Homo sapiens: one gene and its partner. The protein of the gene in region 2 purifies or fractionates together with the protein of the main gene of each other region. This does not show direct contact. Each region holds a gene or a part of one and is shown on either strand. Other genes may lie near its edges.

Evidence for each region. Proteins that work in one complex are often made in the same cells at the same time.
Region 1: the proteins of SAXO5 (region 2) and UBR3 purify together in Homo sapiens (affinity purification with mass spectrometry; 2 studies listed by BioGRID and IntAct, with this or other methods). This does not show direct contact.

What each region holds. Positions count from the first base shown.
Region 1 is NC_000002.12:169,924,855-169,928,508, forward strand, and holds part of UBR3 (E3 ubiquitin-protein ligase UBR3), read left to right. Parts: intron 1-764; coding exon 765-893; intron 894-1,837; coding exon 1,838-1,890; intron 1,891-1,983; coding exon 1,984-2,117; intron 2,118-2,465; coding exon 2,466-2,551; intron 2,552-3,654. UniProt on the Homo sapiens protein: E3 ubiquitin-protein ligase which is a component of the N-end rule pathway. Does not bind to proteins bearing specific N-terminal residues that are destabilizing according to the N-end rule, leading to their ubiquitination and subsequent degradation.
Region 2 is NC_000019.10:7,495,925-7,499,678, forward strand, and holds the start of SAXO5 (stabilizer of axonemal microtubules 5), read left to right. Parts: upstream 1-1,623; 5' UTR 1,624-1,758; intron 1,759-3,754.

The DNA.
Region 1 (3,654 bases), on a different chromosome or scaffold from region 2:
AAACCTTGTCTCTACTGAATATACAAAAATTAGCTGGGCATGGTGGCGTGCACCTGTAGTCCCAGCTACTCGGGAGGCTGAGGCAAGAAGAATTGCTTGAACCTGGGAGACAGAGGTTGCAGTGGGCCAAGATCGCGCCACTGCACTCCAGTCTGGCGACAGAGTGAGATTCTGTTTCAAAAAAAACAAAAAAAATGATGACTGCCTAGTTTTAGTTGACACTGGACATAAATACATGAAGAATTAAATACTGATGTAGTGAGAACATTTATTCTAACCTCCAATATTTGGAAAATTAGCAGTATAGATTTAAGATTGAGTTAGGGTGAATTAAAGATGTAGAATGTATTCATTGACTTTGAACAGTTGGTTTTATTTTATGCTTATTCTAGTGTCTTTCTTTAAACATGTATATTAGGATTGTTGTTGTTGTTACTTAGGGTTTTCTTGAGGGAGAAATAGAGTGAAACATAAGCATTGATTTCTTATGAAAGATGTCAGTGAAAATCATCATAAATGTATCCAGAGGCCAACATGGAAAACCAACTCATTTGTTTAAACTCTAAAAAAGTGGCTATGTAAAAACATAATTATTGTTAAAAAAAATGTAAAAATGTATATTTCAACTGATTATCTTTAACATTGGACAGAATATCGGGCTTATACTATGATCACATCATTAAATATTTTGAAATGGTTATTTATAATATTTTGTAAAGATTGCATTTAGATAATTTATTCTTTGTCCAATTTACTTTTATTAGGCAAGTCTTGCAGAAATCCACAGCAATATGTGGGTAAGAAATGGTCTGCAAATCAAAGGACAAGCCATGACGTATGTCCAGTCTCATTTCTGTAATTCCATGATTGATCCTGACATTTACCTGTTACAGGTAAGCCAGCTAGATAATGCAGATATACTTTAGAAGTGTCTCATTTGTACCCAAGGGATTTTAATTTATAGAGGTGACTGCGTGATGACATGGAGAGGCCAATGCCATTGAAAGAATAATTTTTTACTTACATTTCCCAGGAGAAGAGGCATACCACCCAACACAAGGCTACAAGGAAAGCACCAGATTTTGGTCAAGAGGCAGAAAGGAGTGAGGGGAGAGCCTAGGCCAGAGCCTTTATTGGGGTTTCTGCAGGAAAGGCAAGGAAAGGCAAGGCAGGATTGGCTAATTTGAATAATTCCAGCAGGCTTTGAGGCATAGGGGCTGTATCTGGCTCTGCGGTACCTGGCCCTGGGTTGATTTAGGGGAGGGGAAATACTGGGTTGATGTGTGAGAGTTAGATAAAGACAGTGGTTGGCTTGCATGACAGGCATTTTCCCAAGTAAGTTGTTTAGTATGTTCAGGAATTAACTGGCTCTGGGAGGGACTATCTGTCTTCAGGTCTGTAATGCCCCTCAAGATGTCAAAACATCATAATATACAGAAAATAAAAATCATAGCCAGGCGTGGTGGCTCATGCCTGTTATCCCAGCACTCTGGGAGGCCAAGGCAGGCAGATCACTTGAGGCCAGGAGTTTGAGACCAGCCTGGCCAACACGTCGAAACCCTGTCTCTACTAAAAATACAAAAATTAGGCAGGTGTGGTGGCACACACCTGTAAATCCCAGCTACTCGGGAGACTGGGGGATGAGAATTGCTTGAGCCTGGGAGGCAGAGGTGGAGGTTGCAGTGAGCTGAGGTTGCACCAGCTTGGGTGAGAGTGAGACTCTGTCTCAAAAACAAAAAACAAAAAACAAAAAACAAAAAAAAGTATAGAAAAACATGATTAATAGAAGAAGGAAAACTGAATATTGAGAAATAAAGCATTTTGTTTTCTTTTAAAGGTTTGTGCTTCTAGACTTGACCCAGATTATTTTATTTCATCCGTCTTTGAAAGGTAGGCATAATTTTATTAAGACAGGTATTAGGAAGTGTCCAGTTAATTTTGTTTTAATTTATAAAAATATGTTTCAAATATTTCTTCTTGTAGATTTAAGGTAGTGGATTTGTTGACAATGGCATCACAACATCAAAATACAGTACTTGATGCAGAGCATGAGAGGTCGATGTTAGAAGGCGCTCTTACATTTCTTGTGATTCTTTTGAGTCTTCGTTTACATTTAGGTAAAACTCACTGATACTAATACTTATGCATTAACTGTTTTCCTCCCTTTCTCCCCCTCCCTGTGGTAGTAACTGGCTTAGGGAAAAAAGGAAAGGATGTAGATAAATGTAAACAATGTTTCAAACTCTTGATATGTTGTACTGTAGGTATACCTTTTAGAATATCCTTTGCTTAAGGGAACTGCAAACAGCAGTTAAACTGCAGTTATGTTTGGAGCATAGCTTCTTTACTCTTTAATTTGAAGCATCTTATATTTGGTAAAACAGCTTAGTAAAAAGTGTGGTAAGTTTTTTTCTTTATAATTTATGTATACTCAGATTTGTTAATTCCGTTTTTAATAATTTTAGGAATGTCTGATGATGAGATTCTCAGGGCCGAGATGGTAGCCCAGCTGTGTATGAATGACAGGACACACAGTTCATTGCTGGACCTCATATCCTTTTAAAATTTTACTTTCTGTTAGTTGCAGGATCTAAAATAAGTATTTTTTATGATTAATAGTTTATCAATTTTTTGATTAATTTTTTTTCAAAGTTGAAAAATAATATAGAAAAAGAAGAACACCAGTTGTGTGCTCAAGTATGTATTCAAGCCTGGTGACTGTTTTTTTTTTTTTTTAACCTCCTGTTATTACCTCTTGGGGAACTCTTCTTAGACTTTAGGGTAGATTTCAGGACTGAATGATGGCTTTGGCCACCCCAGCATTTAACCTCCTAGTGGACAGCATTACTGAACGTTTTATAAAAGGCAGCTAGGTCCATTTTGTCTGTGTAGCCAGGATGCAATTCATGGTTAACAGTTAAAGGTATACCTTACGATTATTATTACCAGGATTTTAAACATTTTGAGGGTTTTTCTGTAGAATTTGGTCTTAAAGGATTTTTGAATTTATAGATTTTTGTGTACAAACAGGGAACCTGTGGTTCTTTGTATAGGACTGAACATACAATGAGAATCTGATTATCTTTTTAAGTTAATGTTAATAAAATTTTACACAAAGATTATCAAGTAATTTTGTGATAAAAATTCTGGCCGAATTTAGTATTTGTATATCTTATGACTATGTTTGGAAGAATTGGCTAAACTTTTTATTTTGTGAAATAAGTCCTATTAGAATGCCTGTTTGACAACCTTGATTTTTGTAAGCAGCCTCAATTTGATACTGTCTGATGATTTCCTTCAGTCATTATGAACTATGTGTCAGTGCTATTATAGAGTAAAAACGATCTCTGTGTCTTTCAATTTTAAAGATTTATGTGCTTTAATGTGAGGAGAGAATCTTTTTGGTTTGCCTCTTTGCTTATATTTGCTTAGTATTTTTTTCTTTGGGGATGAAATTTTGTGTTTTTGGAAAAACAATCTTTGCTCATAAAAATCTTGGCTAATTTTTCACAAGTTCTTTCTGTTTTTTAAGGAAAAGTTATTTACAAAATGGTAAAAATGAAGACACATTTTTAAAAGTTTTTCTATCGTTTTCTGAAATTTGATAAATTTATTTCGGGGAAAATATACCTGGGAACTACTGCAGCATACAAT
Region 2 (3,754 bases):
CTCAGCTCACTGCAACCTCCGCCTCCTGGGTTCACGCAATTCTCCTGCCTCAGGCTCCTGAGTAGCTGGGAATACAGGTGCCCGCCACCACACCCGGCTATTTTTTATATTTTTAGTAGAGACAGGGTTTCACCATGTTGGCCAGGCTGGCCTCGAACTCCTGACCAAAGGAGATCCGCCTGCCTCAGCCTCCTGAGTAGCGGGGATTACAGGCGTGAGCCACCACGCCCGGCTAATTTTTGTATTTTCAGTAGAGACAGGGTTTCACCGTGTTCGCCAGGCTGGTCTCAAACTCCTGACCTCAAGTGATCCACCCACCTTGGCCTCCCAAAGTGCTGGGATTACAGGCGTGAGCCACCACACCAAGCCACAACAGCCCTTTTCTGGACGCTACTTTGGGAGGCTGAGATTACAAATGTGAGCCACCATGCCTCACCTGTGTGTTGTTTTTATTTGTTTTTATCTGCTCATCTCAAAAAAGAAAGTAAAATTTCCAACCAATAAATTCATCCCACCCAAATCCCCTACTTCCTTAAGCTGTGCCCCCAAAACACCGAGCAGAATTGCAAATCCCATAATAAGTGCTTTCTGGCCGGGCGTGGTGGCTCACGCCTATAATCCCAGCACTTCGGGAGACTGAAGCGAGCGGATCACCCGAGGTCGGCAATTCGAAACCAGCCTGACCAACATGGAAAAACCCCATCTCTACTAAAAATACAAAATTAGCTGGGTGTGGTGGCACATGCCTATAATCCCAGCTACTCGGGAGCCTGAGGCAGGAGAATCACTTGAAGCCGGAGGTTGCGATGAGCTGAGATCGTGCCACTGCACCCCAGCCTGGGCAACAAGAGCGAAACTCCATCTCAAATAAATAAATAAATAAATAAATAGCGAAAAAAAGTTCTTTCTAACACCTCCCTACTGAGACCGCCATAGTGCCCTATGACATGTATGAGCTCTCTCTCCCTCTCTCTTTCTTTCTCTCTCTCTCTCTGATGAATAATAAGCTTGAATGTGTTCAATCACAGGTACATTCCTGGTGGTCTTTGACTGGGGAAGGAGGGGTGACCGGCCCCTTTAAAGGGAGATCTGTGAGCCCTAGAATAATATCAAGAGGTGCAGTGATTCAGGGAAGTGGGTCCATTCTGTGTGGGGTGTGTAGAAGGTAGAGGGACAGAAAAACTTTAGAGGATGATAATAATAATGGACACCAGCAGCCTATTTAATCAAATCCTCAATACTGACACTGCTTTCTGAACTGGCTACCATCATTAGTCCCCTTTTGCAGATGACAAAACCTAAGTCCTAGCCAGGCATGGTGGCACACACCTGTGGACCCACCCACTTGGGAGGCTGAGGCGAGAGGATCGCTTGAGCCCAGGACTTCAAGTCCAGCCTGGGCAACATAGCGAGAGCTTACCTCAAAAACAAAACCAACCGAACAAAACCCCAGAGGCTCCAAAAAGTCAATTACTTGCCTGGGTTCCTGGAGCTCTAAGGAGGCAGTATTCGCACCAAGCCTGCCTGCTAATTTTCCTCCCGGCTGCCCCTAGAGGTGCTGAGTGGTCATTGTGACAGTATCATTACACAAAGGAAGCTCTTGGGGTCACAATGCGCAGGGCTGGACCACCCTTGGATGCAGCCTGGGAAGGAACATGAGGATCCTCTGAGAGACCAGGGACAGAGGGAGACCCAAAGATCTGGTCTGTAGCTAAGTGAATTTTCTAAAACTCATTGATTCACACGCCATCCCTTGAGGTAGGTGCACTGTCCTCGTCCCTGATGTACAGAGGTGAAAACTGAGGCTCATGGGAGCTTAATGACTTATTCCAAGATTACCTGGCTAGTAGTCTCAGTTGTTGGATTCTCTGATGACCCATTTTGGAGGTCATATTCAACTCTCAACTATTGCAGGGGGCAAATGATTCAAAAAGCAGCAAACTCAGCCAGGCGCGGTGGCTCATGCCTGTAATCCCAGCATTTTGGGAGGCCGAGGAGGGTGGATCACCTGAGGCTAGGAGTTCGAGACCAGGCTGGCCAACATGGCGAAACCCCGTCTCTACTAAAAATACAAAAATTGGCCGGGCGTGGTGGCGGACACCTACAGTCCCAGCTACTCTGGAGGCTGAGGTGGGAGAATCGCTTGAATCCAGGAGGAAGAGGTTGCAGTGAGCTGAGAAAAAAAAAAAAGCAACAAACTTACACACTGAAAAACTGTGGTTTCATTAAAACACACACACACACATACACACACACACACACACACACACACACACCCTTCATCCATGTTTTCTTTCTATTTTTGTGATGGGGTTTCGCTCTGTCACCCAGGCTGGAGTGCGGTAGCGTGGTCTCGGATCACTGCAACCTCTGCCACCCAGGTTCAAGCGGTTCTCCCGCCTCAGCCTTCTGAGTAGCTGGGATGACAGGTGCATACTACCATGCCCAGCTAATTTTTGTATTTTTTTCTTTTTTTTTTTTTTTTTTTTGAGACAGAGTTTCGCTCTTGTTGCCCAGGCTGGAGTGCAATGGCGCAATCTTGGCTCACCACGACTTCTGCCTCCTGGGTTCAAGCTATTCTCCTGCCTCAGCCTCTGGAGTAGCTGGGATTACAGGCATGCGCCACCACGCCTGACTAATTTTGTATTTTTAGTAGAGATGGGGTTTCTCCATGTTGGTCAGGCTGGTCTTGAACTCCGACCTCAGGAGATCTGCCCACCTCGGCCTCCCAAAGTGCTGGGATTATAGGCCTGAGCCACTGCACCCGTCTGATCCATGTTTTCTAAATAGGTAGAGGTAAGCAGGTTTTGTGGGTTGAAGTGATCTGGGAGGTCTTCCTGCAAGAGGTGAGCCTGAGAACTTGGAATGCTGGTCTCCAAGGGAGACAGAGAGGAGAGCATGGGAGACACTTGTGATCTAAGCAAAGGCAAGAAAGTCCCAGGTGACTGAGCAGAGGCGGAGGGTCAGGGGAGGCTTGGAGTCTGAAGCTGAAGGTCAGAGGAGAGAGCTAACTCTCAGAAGGTGTGAAGACAGGAAGAGATTGAGAATAGGCAGGACCTAGGACAACTGCAGAGCAGGGGAAAACCAGTAAGAAAGTGCGTGGCAGGCCGGGCACAGTGGCTCACACCTGTCATCCCAGCACTTTGGGAGGCCAAGGCAGACAGATCACTTGAGGTCAGGAGTTCGAGACCAGCCTGACCAATGTGGTGAAACCCCGTCTCTACCAAAAATACAAAACTTAGACGGGCATGGTGGCAGGTACCTGTTATCCCAGCTACTTGGGAGGCTGAGGCAGGAGAGTCAGTTGAATCCAGGAGGTGGAGGTTGCAGTGAGCTGAGATCGTGCCACTGTACTCCAGCCTGGGGGACAGAGTGAGACTCTGTCACAAAAAGAAAAGGAAAGAAAGAAAGAGAGAGAAGGTAGGGAAGTGAAAGGAGCGGAGGGGAGGGGGGAGGGGCGGGGGAGGGGGAGAGAAGGGAGAAAAAGTGTGGCAGAAACGGAGATGGCCAGTGGCTGGGGTGCAGGGCTGGAGTTAGGCAGAGGAACAAAAATGGGTCCCCCAGAGGGGAAGAAGGAGAAAACCGTGGCCTTGACAACTGACTGAGGGTGAGAAGACGCGGTTCTTGTATCAGACATACAGTAGAATGCAGTGGTTAATTCTCCAAGTTCTAGAATCAGAGTCGCCCTGGGTTCAAATCTCAAGCAAATGACCACCTCCCTGAGCCTCAATGTCTTTTGTGAAGCAGTGGTTAA